7 linked regions of the Homo sapiens genome follow. The protein of the gene in region 2 purifies or fractionates together with the protein of the main gene of each other region. This does not show direct contact. Each region holds a gene or a part of one and is shown on either strand. Other genes may lie near its edges.

Evidence for each region.
Region 1: the proteins of IRF2 (region 2) and LARP4B purify together in Homo sapiens (affinity purification with mass spectrometry; one large-scale study listed by BioGRID and IntAct). This does not show direct contact.
Region 3: the proteins of IRF2 (region 2) and TRIM25 purify together in Homo sapiens (affinity purification with mass spectrometry; one large-scale study listed by BioGRID and IntAct). This does not show direct contact.
Region 4: the proteins of IRF2 (region 2) and CEP170 purify together in Homo sapiens (affinity purification with mass spectrometry; one large-scale study listed by BioGRID and IntAct). This does not show direct contact.
Region 5: the proteins of IRF2 (region 2) and G3BP1 purify together in Homo sapiens (affinity purification with mass spectrometry; one large-scale study listed by BioGRID and IntAct). This does not show direct contact.
Region 6: the proteins of IRF2 (region 2) and HDHD5 purify together in Homo sapiens (affinity purification with mass spectrometry; one large-scale study listed by BioGRID and IntAct). This does not show direct contact.
Region 7: the proteins of IRF2 (region 2) and IARS2 purify together in Homo sapiens (affinity purification with mass spectrometry; one large-scale study listed by BioGRID and IntAct). This does not show direct contact.

The regions. Positions count from the first base shown.
Region 1 is NC_000010.11:858,706-862,205, reverse strand, and holds part of LARP4B (la-related protein 4B), read left to right. Parts: intron 1-3,500. UniProt on the Homo sapiens protein: Stimulates mRNA translation.
Region 2 is NC_000004.12:184,394,551-184,398,050, reverse strand, and holds part of IRF2 (interferon regulatory factor 2), read left to right. Parts: intron 1-3,500. UniProt on the Homo sapiens protein: Specifically binds to the upstream regulatory region of type I IFN and IFN-inducible MHC class I genes (the interferon consensus sequence (ICS)) and represses those genes. Also acts as an activator for several genes including H4 and IL7.
Region 3 is NC_000017.11:56,893,550-56,897,049, reverse strand, and holds part of TRIM25 (E3 ubiquitin/ISG15 ligase TRIM25), read left to right. Parts: intron 1-1,097; coding exon 1,098-1,124; intron 1,125-1,445; coding exon 1,446-1,529; intron 1,530-1,608; coding exon 1,609-1,707; intron 1,708-3,500.
Region 4 is NC_000001.11:243,189,282-243,192,781, reverse strand, and holds part of CEP170 (centrosomal protein of 170 kDa), read left to right. Parts: intron 1-1,287; coding exon 1,288-1,764; intron 1,765-3,500.
Region 5 is NC_000005.10:151,778,454-151,781,953, forward strand, and holds part of G3BP1 (ras GTPase-activating protein-binding protein 1), read left to right. Parts: intron 1-3,500. UniProt on the Homo sapiens protein: Protein involved in various processes, such as stress granule formation and innate immunity. Plays an essential role in stress granule formation.
Region 6 is NC_000022.11:17,149,278-17,152,777, reverse strand, and holds part of HDHD5 (haloacid dehalogenase-like hydrolase domain-containing 5 isoform 2 precursor), read left to right. Parts: intron 1-3,032; coding exon 3,033-3,236; intron 3,237-3,500.
Region 7 is NC_000001.11:220,107,632-220,111,131, forward strand, and holds part of IARS2 (isoleucine--tRNA ligase, mitochondrial precursor), read left to right. Parts: intron 1-3,154; coding exon 3,155-3,306; intron 3,307-3,500.

The sequences.
Region 1 (3,500 bases), on a different chromosome or scaffold from region 2:
GTATTTATAAAGGTACAAAAATTAAGCCATGCTTGTTTCTTGTAAATATAAATTTGCCATCTTGAATTTGCATAAAGTGAATTTCCCGTCTACATGAGCAGTTTTCTAAATCTGAGGAAGGCCAGTATTCAGCAATGTAATTTGATTACATCCCCCTTGTTAATTCACCAGTAACTGGTTAGTGACTTGGGAATGGCAGAACATTGGGATAAACTGGAGTCATGTTAGAGTCCATTGAATTTAAGATGGCAAAGGAAAGGAATGCTCATCATTAAAACAGATTTTTACAAAAGATAAAAAGGCATTATACATTGAGGGAGTGAGAATCCTAATGGTAGGAAGTAAAATGGTTCAAAATAAACAATTTAAGTTTCAGACTAAATTGAAATGACCTAATCTTGAACTGGGGTCAGAATTTATACAGAAGATGGAAGATAGATAGGAGGTAGACAGATGTGAAGATCTGTCTTGAGGATGGAAGATGGGTAATGTTATCAACAGTGAAATAACTTGTGAAAATCTGCCTGAAGACAGGAGATAGATAACGTTACCAAAAGTGAAATAACATGTTAAAATCTATCTGAAGATAGAAGATAGGGAACATTATCAAAAGTGAAATAACAACATGTTAAAGTATATTCTGGAAAGTTTAATTTCAAAAGGTGATTCTTTTTAAAAGGGGTATTTAAAACTATTTTCAAAAAGAAGAAAAAGAATACCTTCTGCTTTGTCTTCCTCCTTCATCTGCCTCCACCTACTCCCTCTCTCACTCCTATAAAGCATTAGTGAGGCATAACCGATGTACAATAAACATCATATACTTCAGGTATACCCCAGATTTTCTGTAGCTTACAGACAATTGAGGAAATAATACATTATTAATGTGTTGCCTCTTTCATTCCTCTTTGCTTTGTCCACCCAGTTTGATAAGTTGTTCTGTACCTGTAAAATCCTCAGCACAATCAAGATCACGAACATCCCAAACACCAGGAAGAGCTTCCTGTGCCCTCTCCTTTCTCCGTGGAACCGGTGGTCTGTTTTTTTCTTTTTGAGATGGAGTCTTGCTGTGTCACCCAGGCTGGAATGCAGTGGCGTGATCTCGGCTCACTGCAACCTCCGCCTCCCGGGTTCACGCCATTCTCCTGCCTCAGCCTCCCCAGTAGCTGGGACTACAGGTGCCCACCACCACACCCGGCTAATTGTTTGTATTTTTAGTAGAGACGGGGTTTCACCGTGTTAGCCAGGATGGTCTTGATCTCCCGACCTCATGACCCGCCCACCTCGGCCTCCCAAAGTGCTGGGATTACAGGTGTAAGCCTTCATGCCCGGCCCAGTGGTCTGTTTTCTATCACTATATGTCAGTTTGCGTTTCGTAGATTTTTTTTCTCTTTAAAAAAAAAGATGGAACTCCTGGGCCCAAGAGATGTGCATCAGCCCCACAAGTTGCTGGACAACAGACGTGTGATAGAATTTGACAGTGTGTACTGTTTTTGTCTGACTTAGGTTACTATTTTTGAGACTGATTCATGTTGTAACATGAATTAATCATTTATTTTTATTGCTGAGAAGTATTCATGATATGGATAGATCACAGTTTGTTTTTCTATTCCCCTATTCATGGATTTTGGGATTGTTTTCAAAATGTGGCTTTGCCAATAAAAAGTGTTCATAAAAGTGAACATTTGTCAGCAAGATTTCATATAAACATATGTTTTCATTTCTCTTGGGTAAAATACCTAGGAATGGAGTAGCTGGATCATCTGGTAGGCATGTTTATCCTTTTAAGAAATGGTAAGGCAGTTTTCCAAAGTGGTGGTACCATTTTCTATTCTCAACCAGTGGTGGATTAAAGCACCACATCCTTATGACCCTTATGACCTCAGGGTCAGTCTTTAATTTTAGCTGCTGTAAAAGGGAGACAGTAGAATCTTACTGTGGCTTTAATTTATGTTTCCCTAAGGACTAATGCTATCAAACATCCTTTTTAAAAAAAAGACTGTTTTTTTTAGAGCACTTTCAGGTTCACAGCGAGTTTTAGTGGAAGGTATAGAGATCTCCCATATACTCCCCTCCCCCCCACCCCCACACATGCATGGCCTTCTTCACTATTCACACTCCCTCACCAGAGGGTGCCTTTGTATAATTGATGATCCTATATTGGCACATCATTATTACCTGGAGTCTACAGTTTACATGAGGGCTCACTCTTGGTGTTGTACGTTCTGTGGGTTTGGAGAAATGTATAATGACATGTACCCTCCATTGTAGCATCAGAGAGAGTAGTTTCCCTGCCCTAAAAGTCATCTGTGTTCTGCCTACTCACCCCTCCCTCCCCCCAACCCCTAGCATCCATTGGTTTTTTCACTGTCTCCATAGTTTTACCTTTTCCAGAATGTCATAGGGTTGGAATCCTGCAGGATGTAGCCTTCTTAGATAGGTTTCTTTCATTTAGTAACGTACATTTAAGCTTCCTCCATGTCTTCAAGGCTTGATAACTCATTTCTTTTTAGCACTGAATAACATTCCATTGTCTGGACATACTACAAATTACTTAGTCATTCACCTACTGAAGGACATCTTGGTTGTTTCCAGGTTTTGGCAATTACAAATAAAGATGCTGTTAGCATTCATGTGCAGGTTTTTGTACGGAAGGAAGTTTTTAACTCCTTTGGGTAAATACCCAGGAGTGTGATTGCTGGATCATAAGGTCAGAGTATGTTTAGTTCTGTAGAAAGCTGCTGAACTGCCTTCCAGAAGTAGAATTTCTGGATCATATGGTAATTCTTATGTTTAACTTTTTTTGGTGGAATCACCATACAGTTTTCCATACAGGCCATAGTATTTTACATTCCCACCATCAGTGTACAAGGGTTCCAGTTTTATTAAATCCTTGCCAATACTTGTTATTTTCTGATTTTTTTTTTTTTTTGAAATGGAATAATTCTGTTGCCCAGGCTGGAGTGCACTGGAGCAATCTCAGCTCACTACAACGTCCACCTCCCGGGTTCAAGCAATTCTCCTGCCTCAGCCTCCCAAGTAGCCTAGATTACAGGTGTGAGCCACCACGCCCAGCTAAATTTTGTATTTTTAGTAGATACGGGGTTTCACCATGTTGGCCAGTCTGGTCTCAAACTCCTGACCTCTGCCCATCTCAGCCTCCCAAAGTGCTGGGATTACAGGCGTGAGCCACCACACCCAGCTAACTTTTGTATTTTTTGTAGAGACAGGGTTCAACCATGTTGTCCAGGCTGGGTTCGAACTCCTGACCTCAGGTGATCTGTCTGCCTCGGCCTGCCAAAGTGCTGTGATTACAGGCATGAGCCACTGCGCCCAGCCTATTTTCTGATTTTTTTGATAGTAGTCATTCTAGTGGGTATATCTTTGTAGTTTTGGCTTGCATTTCCCTAATGGTTAGTGATGCCAAGCACCCTTTTTGTTCTTATTGGCCATTTGTCTTCTTTGGATAAATGTCTATTCAAATCCTTTGCCTATTTTTGAAT
Region 2 (3,500 bases):
ATCTAGTACAGGTTCTAATTAGGCCAGATGACTGAGCCATTTCCAATTCTCCAGGGACTTGGCTACATAATGACAGGAGTTGGCCCAGGCAGAGTCACAGGGGGAGGAACAGATCCAGTTGGTTCTTCCATTCTTCCAGAGTAAAAGGATGGCTCCTCTCGTTCGCCAACATTACTTCATCTTCTCCTCTCTTCCTGATGATCTCCATTGAATTTTGTGGAAATCAATTGTAATTAGGAAATATAAATTCTGAGTCAGTGTTACTGCTTGCAGATATTAAAAATAAAAAGCAGAGTCCCCATCCTGGGAAACTGCAGTTCAGCTCTAGCAAATAGTTCAGGGATTCTTCCCTGTGCTCTTTACACGCTGCCAAATGGGATGTCCTCCAGTAGGTGCCACCCCCAACACTGGCTCCGACCAGCGTTGGAATTAGAGTTGACTCAAAGGACTGTTGTTTGTGAATTATCAGCCACTAAGTCTAATCTCATTTTCCCTGAATGCCAACTTTCTTTTTTTTTTCACTTTTAAAAATTGTGGTAAAATACATTAACATAAAATTTACCATTTTAGCCATTTTTAGGTACACAGTTTAGTAGCATTCAGTGCATTAATGTTGTCGCAGCCATCACCAGCATCCACCTCCAGAACGTTTTTCATCTTGCGAAACTGAAACTCTGTCTGCATTAAACACTAAGTCCTCTTTTCCCTCCTCCACCCCAGCCCCTGGCAACCTCCTGCCTATTTTCTATCTCAGTGAATTTGGCTATTCTAGGTACCTCCTATGAGTGGAATCATAGTGCTTGTTGTTTTGTGACTGGCTTATTTCACTTAGCATAGGTCCTAGTGTGCATTTATGCTAGGAGCGTAAGTGGAATGTGAGAATAGACCTTGGCCACAGGAAGATTATAATCTGTCAAACAGGATAAGCTTGTCTTCGGTGCTTTATTCAGCAAATGCGTTTTGGACTCTTACACGTGCCAGTCCCTGTTTGGTCCTTGCCAGAGTGCAGTCACAAGAACTACTATGTTTTGCAAATTTATTGTGCCCTGGGAACCATGCTCAGTGCTTGGGTACAGTTGACTGTTGTTGTTGTTGTTTGTTGTTGTTGTTAATAGAAATAGGGTTCTGCCTTGCTGCCCAGGTTGGTCTAGAACTCCTGGGCTCAAGTGATCTGCTCGCCTCAGCCTCCCAAAGTGCTGGGATTACGGGCATGAGCTGCCATGCCTGGTATGATACAGTTGACTTGTTTAATTATAATTAGAGTAACCCTGTCAGCCTGGGTATCGTCATCATCCCGTTTTTAAAAGTGAGGAATCTGGCTGGGTGTGGTGGCTCACGTCTGTAATCCCTGCACTGGAAGGCTGAAGTGGGAGGATCACTTGAGCCCGGAAATTGGAGACCAGCCTGGGCAACATAGTGAGACCACACTTCTACAAAAAATAAAAAAAGTTAACCGGGTGTGGTGGCATGTGCCCGTAGTCCCAGCCACTTGGAAGGCTGAGGCAGGAGCATCCCCTTGAGCCCAGGAGTTCAAGGCTTCATTGAGCCCTGGTTGCACCATTGCACTCCAGCCTGGGTGACAGAGCGAGATCCTGTCTTAAAAAAAAAAAAAAAGAAAAAAAAATATATATATATGGATCTGCGGCTGGCGTGGGTAGAGCAGCGTGTCTGAGGGAGGAACGATTGGGAGCACAGCTAGAACCCATGAGCCGTTGATGCCAAAGGCCGGTCCTTAACGCCCGCCCTGTGTCGCTGCCCTGGACAGCGCACGGGCTCTGCCGTTCAGAACACAGCCACATCCCGTGATCTCATTTGATTTTCACAAGGACCCACCAAAGGAGGCAGAGCAGAATGTTTATGCCTAAATTTTACAGTAGAGCTAACCGAAGCGTGAAACACTCAGCCACTTTGCTTATATTTACATAGTTATGGCTAAAAACCCATGACTTTCTTCTATAGCCTGCTGCTGCAGGCATCGTTACACTCCATGTGGTTTTCTTTCTCTCTTCTTTTTTTAGGGGGTTGGAGCTTTAGAATAGACTTCTATGTTTATCTGTTGAGTAAGACTTTTCTGAGGTCTTCTTGGGGATTCTGGAAAGACCTCTTCTTGCTGTTCTGCCAGCAGTGGCATTTGCTCAAGCAAAAGATTCCGGAGAACAGCAGATCCATGCAGAGAGAAATGAACATTTCATTACTCTCTTCAGGACATTTGCATAGGTTTGAAAGGAAGGATTTCAGTGCCAGGATGGCAGTCAACAGGAGGTTTTGCTGGAGCCTGGCTTTTCAGCCTGGCCTTTGGTTCTTTCCGTTGTTTTCATTGTCTGGATTCTCCAGAACCTCGTGGAGGGAGGCTTACTGGTTGGAGGCAAAATGTTCCATCGCTGCTGATGTTCTAGAGCTCACAGTGGTGTAAAACATTTCCCTGCTACTGACTGTAGCTAATTTTAGTTCCTCCGTCAGAAATTGTATAACATGCTGTCAGGAAAGGCAGCTTTCTGCGTGTATTCACCTTTCTTGCTTTATGTTCTCCAGTAGAGTCGGCCATTTGCCTGTTTTTCATGATGGAGTTCCTTTGTTTGGGCTGTTCATCTGAATTTCAATCTCCTCTGACCACCTTTTTTTTTTTTTTTTTTTTTTTGAGACGGAGTCTCGCTCTGTCGCCCAGGCTGGAGTGCAGTGGTGCGATCTCGGCTCACTGCAAGCTCCACCTCCCGGGTTCACGCCATTCTCCTGCCTCAGCCTCCCGAGTAGCTGGGACTACAGGCACCCACAACCAAGCCCGGCTAATTTTTTTTGTATTTTTAGTAGAGACGGGGTTTCACCGTGTTAGCCAGGATGGTCTCGATCTCCTGACCTCGTGATCCACCCGCTTCGGCCTCCCAAAGTGCTGGGATTCCAGGCGTGAGCCACCGCGCCCGGCATGCTCTGACCACCTTTATTCATCTGTTTGGGAAACTGGTATTTGGAGGCTGCTGTTTGCTAGTTTTTCCCCCTACTGATCGTTGAATCATAATCCCAGTAGTATATTACAAAACCACATTCAGTTTTGCAAGTCTGTCTTCTCCTCTGTGGTCTAAATATTATGATGAGAAAGAGAAGAGATAGTACTTGCGTTGGATGTTTTAAGACAACATAAAATTCTAGTGTGATTTGTGAAACTTTCATACTAGGGAGGGACATTTCAAAGTGCCACTTTGGGAAGCTCTGGCGGAGAGACATGTCATGTTTAAAGGTGCATTACAAAGTGACCCCTTGCCTGATCTGTGGCATCAGAATTTTATTAGGTGGTTGATGGTTTAGTAGAAGAAAACCACAGTAGAATAATGGGGTGGGGGAGGATGGGTAAGAGGGGCTGGAGAGTAGACTCGAGAAGAAAACATCATCTGAAGGACTCACTGGCTATAATGAGAGAGTGGAGATCGCCTGCTGACCAGCAGCCATCAGTAAAGGCTTTGAATCCTTCGGGAAACCACACCAGGCTTGCATTTTGTTGGGCAGAG
Region 3 (3,500 bases), on a different chromosome or scaffold from region 2:
CCTCGAACTCCTGGGCTCAAGTGATCCTCCTACCTTAGCCTCTTGAGGAGTTAGGACTGTAGGCATGTGCCACTAAGCCAGGCTAATTAAAACAATTTTTTTTTTTTTGTAGAGACAGGATATTGATATGTTGTCCAGGCTGATCTTGAACTCCTGGCCTCAAGCAATCCTCCTACCTCAGCCTCCCAAATTGCTGGGATTACAGGAGTAAGCTACAGTGCCTGACCAATAATTTGCATTTCTTAGGGGTTCTCTGGTGATGTCACTGCAGCTGGCTTGGGCACCAGACTTTGAGAACGACTATTTTAGCCAAACTCAGTTCCTGTAGGTAGACACTCCAGATATTTTTAAAAGACTTGGCAAGCATTTTTTTTTTTTTTTGAGACAGGGTCTCATTTTGTTGCTGAGGCTGGAGTGCAGTGGCAAGAACACAGCTCACTGCAGCCTCATCCTCCTGGGCTCAAGCAATTCTTCTGCCTCACCTCCCAAGTAGCTGGGACTACAGGTGTGTGCCACTAGGCCTGGCTAGTTTTTTCTTTTTTTTTTTTTTTGTAATTTTGTAGAGATGGGGTTTCCCCATGTTGCCCATGCTAGTTTCTAACGCTTGAGATCAAGTGGTTCCTGCACCTTGGCCTCCCAAATTGCTGGGATTCCAGGCATGAGCCACCATGCGCCCAGCCCTTGGCAAGCATTTTTTTTTTTCTGATTCCCTATTTGGTTTTTGTGTTTTTTCCTTTATGGAAATATAATTTACCTGCAGTAAATCTCTTTTTTCCCTGCAGTAAATCTTAAATGTGCAGTTAGATCTATTTTGACAAATGCATACATGTGTTACCATTGTTCAAATCAAGATAAAGAATTTCCCTTTCTCCAGAAAATTCCTTCATGCTCCTTATTAGTCAGTCCCCGCCCCCACGACCGCTCATGCTGGTTTCTATCACTATAGATTCATTTTGCCTGCTGACTCCTTCTGTTTTTCAAATTAAAACATCCTTTTATTTGTCTGGGTCAAATTCATGCACATGAATGTTATTATTTTGAAAATGTCATTGTGTTGTGCCTTAAAAGAAATTAAATCTGAAAACTTTCTTTTGCAGAAGAGGAAAAGAAATCCAAGAAACCTCGTAAGTTATGCATTTCTGCAACTGTTCGTTTCTTGAGACTGCCCGAGCACAGAACTAAATGCTGGTAGTGAGAGTCGACCTCTCTCATCAGGGTTCTGTGATGGGTTCTATATGATTCCATTCTGTAATGGCAGCAGGCCTGAGGCTGGAGGGGAGGACAAGCATAAGTGAGATGAATAAGGTGACTTTAGCCTTGTCTGTTTTCCCCTGTGTTGTCCTGCTGTTCAGGCGTGTGTTTGTAGAAGTGGCTCTTAATCAGTGTGGAAGGGAGTAGAGGCCATCCCGTTGCTCTGTATCATATTTCCCTTTCCTTACCCCCAGCCCCTGTCCCTGCCTTACCCAGCAAGCTTCCCACGTTTGGAGCCCCGGAACAGTTAGTGGATTTAAAACAAGCTGGCTTGGAGGGTAAGTTATCATGGGCAAGGAGCTTTGGGGTGTCCACTCTGAGTTTGTTCTGCAAATCACTCTCTGTTTCCTCTCCCAGCTGCAGCCAAAGCCACCAGCTCACATCCGAACTCAACATCTCTCAAGGCCAAGGTGCTGGAGACCTTCCTGGCCAAGTCCAGACCTGAGCTCCTGGAGTGTGAGTAGCTTCGGGGCTGGTGCGCGGTTCCACTGGTTCTGTCTCTCCTGCGCCGCTCTGTGCAGCTCTCTGTGAGGCCAGCTGGCCGGCTATATCAGCCACTCCCCTTCACTTGTCCTCTACTTTGTTGCTCCCTTATTTTCTCCCAGTCATCAGTGCCTTTCTTTACTTTTCCTAACTAGCTCAGATTTCACAATCGGTCCTTTGACTCTCCCTCTTGCCGTCTAGTCTGGCCCAATTGAGCTCACCTTTCTCTGTGGGTCGGCGCCTGCATGTCCTCTGCAGAGAAGGCAGGGCGATTGCGGTCACCGGCCTTCACCGGGCGTCCCGTTGCCGGCATGCCTGCCCTGCATCTCCTGTCTCCTCCCCACCACTCTCCAGAGCCACCATTCCCAAGACTTCCCACTGGCCATAGCTCCATCCTTCTCCCTGTCCCGCCCACCTTCTGCTTCACGAAAAAGACAGACACTGTAGAAGGGGCTCCCCCTGCTCTGTTATTGACATCGCATCTGCATCTACTGTGCCCCCTTCCTCGCCTCCTGGCCCCTTTCCCAAGACCCCCTGGCCCTGGGCTCTGGAGTCTGCTCCCCACACGCTCTCTGGAATCTTCTGCTCTCTCTTAGGCCTTTCCATTCCCATCTCTTCACCCTCAGCATCTCTACCTAGGCTTGCCTATCTGTAGCACGTTTACATCTCTCCAAATCACAAAAACAAACCTAGCAAAACTGTCTCAGCTGCAGCTCTGTTTCCTGCCTCCCTTTCACCCGAATGCTTGTTAAAAATACAAATTACTAGCTGGGTGCGGTGGCTCATGCCTGTAATCCCAGCACTTTGGGAGCCCGAGGCAGGTGGATCACCTGAGGTCAGGAGTTCAAGACCAGCCTGGCCAACATGGCAAAACCCCATCTCTACTAAAAATACAAAAAATTAGCCGGGCGTGGTGGCACATGCCTATAATCCCAGCTACTTGGGAGGCTGAGGCACGAGAATCACTTGAACTTGGGAGGTGGAGGTTGCAGTGAGCCGAGATTGTGCCACTGCACTCCAGTCTGGGCAACAGAGCGAGACTCTGTCTTAAAAAACAAACAAACAAACAAAAAACCCCAAAAACCAAATTCCTGGGCCCTGTTCTAGCCCTACAAGATCAGACTCAGGCAAGCACGGAAAGCTGTATGTTTAGCTCATTTCCTCCATGATCCTTTTGAGGACAGTTGGGGAAAAGCAGCTCTGCAGATTTTCTACATTGGTGGCTCTCAACTGTGGCTGCGTGTTGGAATCCTGGGGAGCTTTTTAAAATCCCCGATGCCCAGGCTGTCCCCCAGACTGGTTCATTCAGAATGTTGGTGTTTGGCTGCCCAGGGTTGCAATGTGGGGCCGAGGTGGGAGCCTGAAGTCTAATCCTCGTGCCACTGCATTCTGACCTCTGTCCTGCCCTTGACCCAGGCAGCTCTGAGGTCATCAGGGTACTCCGTGTCACAAAATCCAGGGACGCCTTTCAGCTTTTATTTAGCTTCACCTGTCAGTGGCATTCCTCCTCCTTCTGACACTCTCTCCCCTTGCCGCTTGAGCTGCTATACCCCCCTGGGTTTCCATCCACCCCTCCTTTGCAAGCTCGTCCAACCTGGAAGTGGGTGGAGTTCCGTTGTCAAGGCCAGGCCTAGGGCCCTCCCACTTTCCGTCTTCTTGTTTCTTCTGCACCCACGTGCAACACTCCAGGCAGCACCTGCCAGTGGTACCCACTTCCATGTGGAGGCCAAAGCCAATCACTGAAAAATATAGCCCTTCCTTTATCA
Region 4 (3,500 bases), on a different chromosome or scaffold from region 2:
GTCAGGTTTTATATTATTTCATATTCAGACTGCTGTCAAGAAACCAATTATAGTACCTGACAGATCCCACTAAAATTTAATTTTTGAAAAGATGTTTCAAAAGACCAAACGCTTCACTTAATTAGAAAATGTTTGGAAACAACCTAGTCTCCCTGTATTGCCTTGTTTTCCTAATAAATTGTCTGTAAGTGATTTTTCTATTAATCTGTTTAAAAGCAGAATTTATTTTTGAGCTTTAGGGAAATATGTCTCATTTCAACTTGCTCTTCATTTTGATAATGGACATGCTTTGCTTCTTCAACAACAGGACAATAGCATCTTTAATTTTTTTATTTTGCATTTGCGTACCGAAAACGTTTTAGTTGTCATTTTTATTTATGTATTTTATTCATAAATGCATCTGTTTCTATACTTTTGTATTAGATTCTGAGGCAACAGAAGAATAGTGATAGTGTTCCAGAGTTGCTTGCTCCTTCTGCCAACTCATGTTAATCTGAGGTTTACAATTCAGCTTTCCTCCAAGGAATTTTGACACTTTTGCATATTCTGCTGTATGGAAATGTAAACTTCCAGAGTTATTGTCTGGAAACTGAATTTCCTATTTTAACCTTATTTCGTTCACACTGCTGCTTGGATTGCAAACCACATGTTTTAGTCTTTATAAAATGTTTGTATCTTCTTGCAAGGATCGCACTTCAGCAATATCTTTGTCATTCTGAAAGTAATGTTTCCGAATGTAATGGTGAAGAATGGTAAGTGGAATCATTACTTCCAGAAGATCACTTACATATTTACTTCATGTTTGTATTCTCATTTGAGCACCTATTCTCCTTTGGAGCACTACATGTGTTCATATATATTTCAGATATCTCATCTTGGCGACTTGAGAAGGGAGTTCATGGTTTTTCTGTCACTTTTTATATATACATTGAACATGCATCTCCATCTACATTTTATTTTAATTCTTTTGGACCTTGATGAATTCTAGATCCAGGTTGGAAAAAATATGGACCTAGCCATGCAAGATCCATTTCTTAACTGCTTTGCTCTCATTTGCCATTGCTGCTGCTTATCTTCCATCCCCTATTGGTAATCAAATCGCATGTTTATAATCAAGATTCTTTCTTCTCTGTGACATTTGTTCTGTGATATAAATGCCATTGGTTTTCATCCAGACTGTGATCTGCCTTCTGGTTCTCACGGAGTAGTACACATGGCCATTACCAGACTCCCTCAAGTGCCAGAAGCAATCAAATATTTTGAATTTTCTCTTATTTTTCTCATTAGGGTGCGGCATAGATGCCAAGCAAGTTGAGGAACAATCTGCAGCTGCAAATGAAGAAGTACTTTTTCCTTTCTGTAGGGAACCAAGTTATTTTGAAATCCCTACAAAAGAATTCCAGCAACCATCACAAATAACAGAAAGCACTATTCATGAAATCCCAACAAAAGACACGCCAAGTTCCCATATAACAGGTGCAGGGCATGCTTCATTTACCATTGAATTTGATGACAGTACCCCAGGGAAGGTAACTATTAGAGACCATGTGACAAAGTTTACTTCTGATCAGCGCCACAAGTCCAAGAAGTCTTCTCCTGGAACTCAAGACTTGCTGGGGATTCAAACAGGAATGATGGCACCCGAAAACAAAGTTGCTGACTGGCTAGCACAAAACAACCCTCCTCAAATGCTATGGGAAAGAACAGAAGAGGATTCTAAAAGCATTAAAAGTGATGTTCCAGTGTACTTGAAAAGGTTGAAAGGTAAAGTGATTTGATCATTCAGAACTTCCTACTTTACGATAAAGAAAATCTGGTCTTCATTTACTAGACTACTAGTAGATACTTACATGGTAGAAAACATTCTGCTTTTTTCAAAGGTTATATTTAGTCTTAAAACTAAACAGGAAGCTACACTGCCCATGTCCAATTTCCTCATTCAAAATAGTCTTCCTTCATTTTCTTGACAAAACCAGATTGGTTTTATGAGCTTATATTTATGCTATAAAACATGTTTCTTTTTCTTCTAGAAATATAAGATTTATTAAGTTTACCAGTAGAGTTCCCTAGAAGATGAGTTCCATCATTTTCTTGATTTAAGGAAAAGATATATTCAATTCTGTTCTCTATTGAGATCAATATCTAGATTCTGAAAGAAATTTTAAGTCATTTGGTCTGAGCCAAAAGTTCTACTTTGGTAATGCAGTCACATCATTGATGGAGCGCTTCAAAGTATTCTCAGTGGTTACTCATAAAACAAAGATTTTTGGTTTAGAAATATTTGGTAGGATCTATTAATCCAGTTTTAAAATTTTTTTTAATATTAGGACTTCATGAAAATTAGAGTTGAATGTTCATTTTTGAAATAGTTATATATACTTTATTTGTGTAGAACTTAGCCAAAATTAGTACAATTTGTATGTTTGTACACTGATGTATCAGCTGATCAGTTTTTTCTCATTGGTTTTGCCAATTAAATTTATTTTAGAATTGAGTATAGATTTATGTTACCCTATCTTTTATTTAATAAGCTATCTATAAGGAAAACGATTTTGAACAAATTGTGATTACACGTTTAGCTGACCATTCTGTTACTATATTAGGAGTTTTTGTACTCCTAACACTTCATCTAGTACTTGAGCATGTGATAGGTACTAATTTGAAAACAATGGGCGATTTCTCTGTCAATGACAAGACTGTCCCTGATTTAATCTGTACCTTATGTCCTGGCATTCTGATCAAGTAATGAAGAAATAGTATTTGTATACTTATTTCTGATTTGCTTCTAAGACATTTCCGGACAGTGAGATGATGTGATTACCTAATTATTTGTTGGAGCCTATCACAATATTTAATTATAGTTATCAGCAGTTACCTGGCATATGTATTTTTGAGACATGATTGTGACATTTTACTTCTAGACAATACGTAATTGAGACATTTTGTTTCTGTAGGTTAACACTCACAAACACATAGGCTGTTTATATGAATTGGATAAATAATATTGATCTCCTAGTACAGTATAAGAGGTAGCTGAACCTTGAGAATTTAGAAATAACTTAGACTTTTTAAAACCACTCTTAATAAACAAAAACTGAGGTAAAATATCCTTTTAAAAGGTAATCATTTTAAAAATACCTTTATTAAACCCATTTATAACTTAGTCATTATAACTATTTTCTATATTGACTATTATTATTACTACTATTTTTTTTTTTTTTTTTTGGAGACAGAGTCTCGCTTTGTCACTCAGGCTGGAGTGCAGTGGCGCGATCTCGGCTCACTGCAAGCTCCGCCTCCTGGGTTCACGCGATTCTCCTGCCTCAGCCTCCCGAGTAGCTGGAACTACAGGCGCCCACCACCACACCCGGCTAATTTTTTTTATTTTTAGTAGAGACGGGGTTTCACCGTGTTAGCCAGGATGGTCTTGATCTCCTGACCTCGTGATCCACCCACCTTAGCCTCCCAAAGTGCTGGGGTTACAGGCGTGAGCCACCGCG
Region 5 (3,500 bases), on a different chromosome or scaffold from region 2:
GTTTTGAGACAGTGTTTCGCTCTTGTTGCCCGGGCTGGAGTGCAGTGGCGCCATCTCTGCTCACTACAACCTCTGCCTCCTGGGTTTAGGTGATTCTCCTGTCTCAGCCTCCTGAGTAGCTGGGATTACAGGTATCCACCACCACACCCGGCTAATTTTTGTATTTTTAGTAGAGATGGGGTTTCACCATGTTGGCCAAGCTAGTCTCGAACTACTGACTTCGGGTGATATGCCCTCCTCGGCCTCCCAAAGTGCTGGGATTACAGGCATGAGAGTACTTTATATATTCTGGATAGAGGTATTTTAAAAATTAGAGATATGGGTCAGGCGCAGTGGCTCACACCTGTAATCCCAGCACTTTGGGAGGCCGAGGCAGGTGGATCACTTGAGGCCAGGGGTTCGAGACCAGCCTGGGCAACATGGTGAACCCTCATCTCTACTAAAAATACAAAAATTAGTCGGGCGTGGTGGTGTGTGCTTGTAATCCCAGCTGCTTGAGAAACTGAGGCATGAGAATTGCTTGAACCTGGGAGGTGGAGGTTGCGGTGAGCGCCACTGCACTCCAGCCTGGGCGACAGTGGAAGATTCCTTCTAAAAAAAAAAAAATCAGTCAGTCAATCAATCAGGTAAATGCCTTGCAAATATTTACTCCTAATCTGTGGCTTGCCTGCGTGCCTTTTCATTCTTTTGATGGTGTCTTTGCAGGGCAGATGGTTTTAATTTTGAGGCAGTCTACGTGATCAATTCGCTTTCTTCTTCATTTGCTTTTGGTGTGTCTAAAATCTTTGCTTAGTGTCATGCAAGTTTTCTTTAGAAGTTCAGTTTTGGGTTTTACACTTTGATTACACTGAATCATTTTGAGTTAAATTTTGTATGTGGTGTGAGACATGAATTGAGGTTCTGGTTTTTTTTTGTTTTTTCCATATGATATCTAATTGTTTCAGTACCAGTTGTTGAAGAGAGTATACTTTTTCCACTGAATTGTCTTTGCACTTTTCTTGGAAATATAGTTGTCCATGTGGATATGTTAGTGAACTCCATTCTGTTTCATGGATCCATTTGTCTCTTTATGTCTAGCCTGTGTATCTATGTACGGTATCTGGTATTTGTGTATACTAAAAACACTTTTAAATATATGTAACGTTATCACACAGTACATATTTGGCAACTGATTTTTCTTTTTAATAATGTTTTTGAGTTATGTGCTCGCTTTCTGGCAGGCATAAATAGGGTGACATATGTCTTGGTTTGCCAGGGACAGTCCTGATTCACTTCAGTTAACCTGACACTATTAATAGTAGTTGTTTTCAATCTTAAAAGTGCTCTCATATGGTTGTCTTAGGTATAGAAGTTTCCCTAATGTGAATAAACCACAACTTAATATCCATTCCTTATTTGATGGACATGTAGATTGTTATCAATGTTATACTTTACAGATAGGGTGGCAGTTATTTGTTTTTGTCTTGTGTGAGTTTGTTTTGTCTTGGGTGAGTTTCTTTTGTATATGTACCTAGAAGAGAACTGCTAGATTTTCATCAGAGTGTTTTTGATTTTATTAGATAGTGCAAAATTGTTCTCCACTGTGGTTGTACCAGTTGAGACTTCATCTTCAGCAGTCCTGTAGGCTCTTTTTTTTACTTGGTTGCCAATGTTTGGTGTTGACTGAGATTTTAATACTTTGGCGCATCTCTTGTAAGGTATCTCCTGTGAGAAGTGATTTTATTAATTGCATTTTCCTGGTTACTTACTCTGTTTTGTTTGCTGTCCATTTAGTACTTTCCTGAGAATTGGCTGCTCCATTTCATTTGCCTGTTTTTCTCTTGGGTTACTCTTTTAGTGATTTGTATGCAGGTTTATATACATTCTACTAATCTTTTATTATATGATATTATATTTTCTTACTATAAAACTGGCACTGAAAATGGGCTATGAAGGCATTTGGCTACTTTTTATTTTGTTGGAGTGAGCTTTGCCATTAAAAATGCAGGTGGAGTATGGGCTGCCTTTATGTTTCCCTGCCCGTCTGTTAAAAATTGGAGGATAATGCTCATAGTTATTTCCCCCTCCGCCGCTAGCTGATGGAGTCTTGCTCATTCGCCTAGGCTGGAGTGCGGTGGTGCGATCTTGGCTCATTGCAAGAGCTCCGCCTCCCGGGTTCACTCTGTTCTCCTGCCTCAGCCTCCTGAGTTGCTGGGACTACAGGCGCCCACCACCATGCCTGGCCAGTTTTTTTGTATTTTTAGTAGAGACGGGGTTTTACCGCATTAGCCAGGATGGTCTCTATCTCCTGGCCTCATGATCGCCCACCTTGGCTTCCTAAAGTGCTGGGATTACAGGTGTGAGCCACCGCGCCTGGCTGATAATGCTCATAGTTCTTTAGACCCTTAACATTTTTCTGTTAACTTCAGCACAATTATTGATGGGGAGTTTCTTTGAAGTTGCTTTGCAATCTGGAAACTTGGGATCAAGTGGAAAATTTGAAAGTTAATGTAGTACAGTTGAACCATGAACAAACGTGGGTATGAACTGCTCAGGTCCACTTGAGCAGATTTTTTTCAATGAATATATTGGAAAATTTTTTTTGGAGATTTGTAACAATTTGAAAAAGCTCACAAACTGAATAGCCTAGAAATAATAAAAAAAATTAAGAAAAAGGTATTTCATGAATGCATAAAATATATGTGGATACTGTTATTTACTACTGTAAAATATACACAAGTCTATTACAGATTTATTACAGAGTTAAAATTTATCAAAATGAACCCACACAAACACTTTGAGACCATTCAGGGCACCATTTGCAGTCAAGAGAAATGTAAACAAATGTAAAGATACAGTATTAAGTTATAACTGCATAAAATGAACTTTAGTATATACTGTACTATAATTTTTTTCCTAGCCACCTCCTGTAAATATTGCAATGTGCTTGTGTTGCAAGTATCTGCTTACAACACTGTGTGATGCTAATCATCTTTATGTGAGCAGTTCTTCTCTCCAGTAAATTTGGATGCAGTAAAAAGTGATTTCTCTTCAATGAGTAGTTTTCATCATGTTTAGTACAATACTGAAAGCCTTGAATAACACCATGGGACCCATACGAAATATCACTAATGATGCTGAAAGCACTCCCAAGAAACAGAAAAGTTATGACATTACAAGGAAATATTAAATTGCTTGATCTGTACCATAGGTTGAGGTGTGCAGCTGTGGTTACCTGTCATTTCAGAGAGACGATTTGTCTTTTAAACAGACAGCATAAACATATACAATACTGAAAATGTATTTTGCAAATGATTTTCTTATTTTCTTTAGCTTTATTGTAAGAATACAGTATATAACCTACAAATAGTTAAATGATTGGTTATATTATTGGTAAAGCTTCTGATCACCAGTGTGCTATTAGTAGTTAAAATTTTGAGGAGTCAAGTTATACACAGATTTTCAACTCTGGGCTATCCATGCCCCTAATTCTCACCTTGTTGAAGGCTCAACTGTAGTTC
Region 6 (3,500 bases), on a different chromosome or scaffold from region 2:
AGACATACCTCAGCTTCCTGGACCCCACACGCTCTTGGTTTTCCTCCTTGCACTGTCTTTTGCTGGCAGGTCTTGTGTGGTCCATTATTAAGTAGTATTGTTCTTCCTGGTTCTCTGAGAGGCGAGACCTTCCAAAATTTTCATCTCCAGGACCTGTCCAGTGCTGATGTCTCCACTTGCCTGTCTCCCAGGTCCAAAGTGGGACTTAACCTTGTATCCTCCAATGACCTCTCGCTGCCCGCTCCTACTGTGCCCTTTGGTTCAGTGACTCATACCCGCATCCACCCTCCCGGGTTCCCAGACCAAAATAAAAAAGCATGGGAGTCCGTGTGGCTCCCTCTTCCCTCCACCCCTGTATCTGGATGGTTACCAAGTCATGACTGTTCTGTCTCTGATAATGCCCCCTGATCTCCATTCTTACCACCACTCTCCCAGGTAAATGCTCCATCTTCTCTGTCTTGGGTTGCATTTGGTCCCACCTGGTCTTTCAGTTAACTCCCTTCAGTCCACCCAATGCAGTCTTTTCTCTGCAGCCAAATTTTTTTCTATAGTTCAGGTCTGATGATACCACTTTCCATTTTCAAACTCCTTAAATTGGCCTCGGAGACCTGTGATGGCCAATCTTCCCCACCCCTGTGGGTCAGGTTCCTCTGGTGTGGGCCTATCTCTTAGTGCAAGGCTCCCTGTAGACTGTCCTGGGGCTGCCTGTCTAATTGTCTTCTCATTGAACCAGGTAGGCAGGCAGGAACCACTCATCTAGTCTGGGGGTGACTGGGGGGTGCAAAGAGTTTTGTTACAGGATGTATTTAACACTTTCATTGTCTGGCTCAAAATTCTCTTTGAAGAAACTGCCTTTGTTTAATTCTGTTTATTTATTTAGAACTTACCTAGAATTGATTTGCACTTGCAAAAATGCTGCTGTTTTAGAGTTTGCTTTCTAGGCTGGTTGCTTGCTCTGTCACCTTAGCTAAAAAGTAGGTACTGGAGCGCCTTTTCTCTTCTCTTCTCTTCTTTCTTTCTTCTTCTTTTTTTTTTTTTTTTTTTTTTTTTAGTAGAGTCTAGCTTTGTCGCCCAGGCTTAAGTGCAGTGGCACGATCCCGGCTCACTGCATCCTCTGCCTCCCAGGTTCAAGTGATTCTCCTGCCTCAGCCTCCCGAGTAGCTGGGATGACAGGCGCCCACCACCACACCCAGCTAATTTTTGTATTTTTAGTAGAGGCGAGGTTTCACCATGTTGGCCAGGCTGGTCTTGAACTCCTGACCTCAAGTGATCCACCCTCTTGAGCCTCCCAAAGTGCTGGGATTACAGGCGTGAGCCACCACACCTGGCCTGTAGCGCCATTTCTGTTTCTGGTTGCTCTATAAAGGGAGCTCTGTGCGTAGAGTAGGTGTGTCAGTAAGAATGACTTGACCTAGTTGGCACCAACAAAGAAAAATAGCAAACAAGTTAGGTTAGGTTTTTTTGATGATTGAAGAACATCTTGTATGTTAACAGGCAGTTTATAAAATGAGAAATGGAATGATTTTTAAAAACAGCATTCAGCTTTATAAATCCAGGAAATGCAGATAGAAAAGAGATAATTTTTTTACCTTTAAATTATAAAAAAGTTTGATAATTAACAGTTGTGAAAATCAATATTGTAAGGGTAAAGTACGTTGCCAGTGGACATGTTTTTGAACAGCAGTTTGTCAGTTGGTGTTTATGTAATTACATTTGCTCTCTCTGATTTATTACTCCTATTTTTAAGAATCTAGCTCAAGGAAATACCCATAATATGGGAAAAAAATCAGTATTCCTGAAGAGGTTCCTTGTAGCATTATTTTTCATAGCAAAATTGTGGAAAAACCTAACTGTCCAAAATATAGAGAACAATATTAGTGAATTATTCACTCAGAATAGTATGTAGCCAGAAATGATGTTTAGGAAATAGAGCTATGCATAATTAATATGGAATGATAGGGCAGGGTGCAGTGGCTCAAGCCTGTAATCCTAGCACTTTGAGAGGCCAAGGTGGGTGAATCACCTAAGGTCAGGAGTTCAAGACCAGCCTGGTCAACATGGCATAACCTCGTCTCCACTAAAAATACAAATATTAGGTGGGCATGGTGGGGTGCACCTGTAATCCCAGCTATTCGGGAGAGTGAGGCAGAAGAATCACTTGAACGTGGGAGGCAGAGGTTGCGGTGAGCTGAGATAACGCTGCTGCACTCCAGTCTCGGCGACAGAGCAAGACTCTGTCTCAAAAAAAAAAAAAAGACAGCCAAGAGATACCAACTAAAAAAGTAAGATGGAAAACAAAGTCAACATGATTCTATGTGTGTGTTAACATTAGAAAGGTGTGTATACTATAGATTTATAAAAGCCTTCTGGAAATTATGCAGGACAGGAATAGGACTAAGTAAGTTGGAGACAAGAAACTTTTGAAACATTTTTATATTGTCTGTAGTGATTGAGGTTATTTTGTTTTTAACTTTTTGCTATAATAAAATCTTAAAAGATGGTTATAAAGACTATTGTAATCCATAAAAATATTTATGATATGTCAAGCAAAAAAGAACGAGATGATGTAAAATGGCATATAGTTCATTTGTAGCTACAAGACAAATATGAGAATAGAGAAAAAAGGGGAACTATTAATTGGTTGTTTTAAAGTGTTGGGATTAGGCTGGACTCGGTGGCTCACGCCTAATAATCCTAGCATTAAATTTAGGAAGCTGAGGCGAGAGGATCCCTTGAGCCCAGTGGGTCAAGGCTGCAGTGAGCCGTGATCATGCCACTGTACTCCAGTCTGGGCAACGGGAAGACTCTGTAAAAGCGAATGATTAAAAATAAGTGTTGGGATTATATTTTCTTTGGATTTCTCTATTTTCTATTTAAAGATTGCCCTATCAGAATCCCATCTTCATTTTTTTGTTCTTTCTGACATAGGTTTTCAAGGGACATGAGTGACCCGAGGATGGTGTTGAGCCTCTCTTTGTAAGGGTTGTTTCTTTGTTACTCACGTACTGGTAATTATCTTACCATCTCTGCAGAGCCCACCCACCTTTGGGTTCCTGTTGGACATCGATGGAGTGCTTGTGCGGGGCCACAGAGTGATCCCTGCTGCTCTGAAAGCCTTCCGAAGGCTGGTGAACTCCCAGGGGCAGCTGCGGGTGCCCGTGGTTTTTGTTACAAATGCTGGGAACATCTTACAACACAGCAAAGCCCAGGAGCTGTCAGCCCTGCTGGGGTGCGAGGTGAGAAGGCAGCCAGAGGCATGGAAGCCCAAGGACCTGGTTCCTAATGGAGCCGCTGCCCCAGCTCCAAGTCCCTTTCCCCTGGGTTGGGATATGGAATCACCTAGTCCTAGGTCATGGCCACAGCTGAACACAGAAATCCTGCCTGTGTATTTGGCAGTTGTAGATTATGTCCTTGTATCTGTTTCTTTTCTTCTGGGCATTGGGGGTGTGAGTCCCTGGAAAGCAAAGGTCACACACATGTCTAGAACTTGCATAGCAGGA
Region 7 (3,500 bases), on a different chromosome or scaffold from region 2:
TAGACCTGATATATTACTTTTCTAGGGCTACTGTAAAAAATCACCGTAAACTTGGTAGTTTGAAACAACAGAAATTTATTCTCTCAAGTGCTGGAAGCTAGAAGTCTAAATTCATCGTACTGGCAGGACCATGTTTTCCTGAAGGTTTTATGGGAGAATCCTTACTTGCCTCTTTCTAGCTTTTGGTGGCTCCTGGAAATCCTTGGCATTCCTTGGTTTATAACTGCGTTACTCCACTCTCTGCCTGTCTTGTCACATGGCCTTCTTTAGATCTTACTTGTTTTTTCGAGACAATCTCACTTTCTCACTCAGGTTGATGTGCAGTGGCATGCTTTCAGCTCACTGCCACCTCTGTGTCCTGGGTTCAAGTGATTCTTGTGCCTTAGCCTCCTGAGCAGATGGGATTACAGGCATACACCACCACACCCAGCTAATTTTTTTTTTTTTGAGACACAGTCTCACTCTGTTGCCCAGGCTGGAGTGCAGTGGTGTGATCTCAGCTCACTGCAACCTCTGCCTCCTGGGTTCAAGCAATTCTCTTGCCTCAGCCTCCCAAGTAGCTGGGATTACAGGATACACACCACTACTCCTGGCTAATTTTTGTATTTTTAGTAGAGATGGGGTTTCACCATGTTGGCCAGGCTGGTCTTGAACTCCTGACCTCAGGTGATCTGCCCACCTTAGCCTCCCAAAGTGCTGGAATTACAGGCGTGAGCCCTCACTGTGTCAGGCCATAATTTTTTTATTTTTTATTTTATTTTTATTTTTTTTTTAAGACGGAGTCTCGCTCTGTTGCCCAGGCTGGAGTACAGTGGCACGATCTTGGCTCACTGCAAGCTCTGCCTCCTGGGTTCATGGGTTCTCCTGCCTCAGTCTCTCGAGTAGCTGGGACTACAGGCGCCTGCCACCATGCCCAGCTAATTTTTTGTATTTTTAGTAGAGATGGGGTTTCACCATATTAGCCAGGACGGTCTCGATCTCCTGACCTCGTGATCCACCTGCCTTGGCCTCCCAAAATGCTGGGTTTACAGGCATGAGCCACCGCACCCGGCCTATTTTTTATTTTTAATAGAGACAGGGTTTCACCATGTTGGCCAGGCTGGTCTCAAACTCCCAGCCCCAAGTGATCCACCTGCCTAGGCCTCCCAAAGTGTTGGGATTATAGGTGTGAGCCACCGTACCCAGCCACCTTCTTTAGGTCTTAAATGTCTCTCTGTGAATCCTCTTTTTTTTTTTTTTTTTTTTTTTTTTATTGGAGGGACTGGTTCTTTATTTCAAAAAGACACTTGTCAATATTCAGTATCAAAGCAGGTGGACTATTGATTTCTGTTTCTCCCAATCGGCCCCAAAGAGACTATATCAAAGGACAGTACGTTTTAAGCCAGTATGCTGCAGGATGTACACCTGACAGACTTTACAGAAACCTTATCGGAAAGTGGGGATTGGGTAGGGAAAGAAACTTTAAAAGATCAGCAAACTGCCAGCCCGGCCAGGCACGGTGGCTCACCCCTGTAATCCCAGCGCTTTGGGAGGCTGAAGCGGACATATCACGAGGTCAGGAGTTCGAGACCTGCCTGGCCAACATGGTGAAACCCTGTGTCTACTAAAAATACAAAAAATTAGCCAGGTGTGGTGGTAGGTGCCTGTAATCCCAGCTACTCTGGAGGGTGAGGCAGGAGAATCACTTGAACCTGGGAGGCAGAGGTTGCAGTGAGCTGAGACTGCACCACTGCACTCCATCCTGGGCAACAGAGCGAGAGTCCATCTCAAAAAAAAAAAAAAAATCTGCCAGCTCACAGACTGTAGAGGGCTGTCACAGTCAAACTGGGTGGCCAGGGTGCCACCCAAAGAAGCAAAGTTTCAAAATAATACAAAAATTTAAAAAAGTTTTGTACATAAGCTATTTAAGATTTCTCTAGCATTAACTGATATTAAGCACAATGAGATGGCACTTTTAGAGACAGCAGCTTCAAACCCAGAAAAGGGTAATGAGATGAGTTTCACATGGCTGAATCAGTGGCAAAAACATAATCTTCTTTCTATCCTCCTCTAAGAACACCAGTGCTCCCTAATGCAGTGTGACCTCATCTAAACTTGATTACATCTGCAGAGGCCTGATTCCCAAGTAAGGTCACATTCACTAGTGCTGGGGGTTAGATCTTCTTGGGGACACAGTTCAACCCACTACACCTGGTTTCCTCCAGATTACCTGGAGACCATTTTAAGATTCATGGCATGAAAGATTATGGATCTAAACTTCAAATGTAGAATTCTAGATATAATCTGTTCATCTTTTCTTTGACGTGAAAAGAGGTAGAAGTGGCATAATTTGGAGTCTGATTAAGATTTTACAGTCCGTGCTTTTTTTTGCCAGGAGAATCCCAGAGCACGCCTTTGATACCTGGAAGGTGACTACTCTTTTTTATTTTATTTTTTTTTGTGAGACAGAGTCTCGCTTTGTTGCCCAGGCTGGAGTGCAGTGGCACAATCTCGGTTCACTACAGCCTCCGCTTTAGCTTAGGTTCAAATGATTCTCCCACCTCAGCCTCCCAAGTAGCTGGGATTACAGGCTCACACCACTGTGCCCTGCTAATTTTTTTGTATTTTTAATAGAGATGGGGTTTCACCATGCAGGCCAGGCTGGTCTTGAATTCCTGACCTCAAGTGATCCTCTCGTCTCTGCCTCCCAAACTGTTGGGATTACAGGCGTGAGCAACCACGCCCAGCCAAGTTGACTACTCTTTTATTTTTTGAGACGGAGTCTCGCTCTGTCACCCAGGCTGGAGTGCAGTGGCACGATCTCGGCTCACTGCAACCTCTGCCTCCCAGGTTCAAGCGATTCTCCTGCCTCAGCCTCCTGAGTAGCTGGGATTATGGGCACACACCACCATGCCCGGCTGATTTTTGCATTTTTAGTAGAGACGAGGTTTCACCATGTTGGTCAGGCTGGTCTCGAACTCCTGACCTCGTGATTTGCCTGCCTCAGCCTCGCAAAGTGCTGGGATTACAGGTGTGAGCCACTGTGGCTGGCAAGGTGACTACTCTTATTGCCACCTGTTGCTGCAGATTTAGTATTTTCTGGAAGTTTAGAGCATTTTTAGGATTTTCACAGTACTTTTTAATTATGTCTAATTTGGTGTTTTTTTTTTTAAAGTTATAAAGATGCTTCAGACTGCAAAGAATTTGTTGAAAGAGGAGAAATTGGTGCATAGCTATCCGTATGACTGGAGGACCAAGAAACCTGTGGTTATTCGTGCCAGCAAGCAGTGGTTTATAAACATCACGGATATTAAGACTGCAGCCAAGGTATAAAAAGCATCCTGTTTTAACAGGTCGGGCATATCATTCCCTCAGTATAAAGGGGCTGCATGTGAGGTTGAGGTGGGGTTTCAGGAGTAATAGGGATTGCTGCTATTATGATTTAGTTTCATAACATTGTAGAATTTTAGATCTGGAAGGACCTTGGACTTCCATTTTTTCATTATACATGTGTGAGAAAT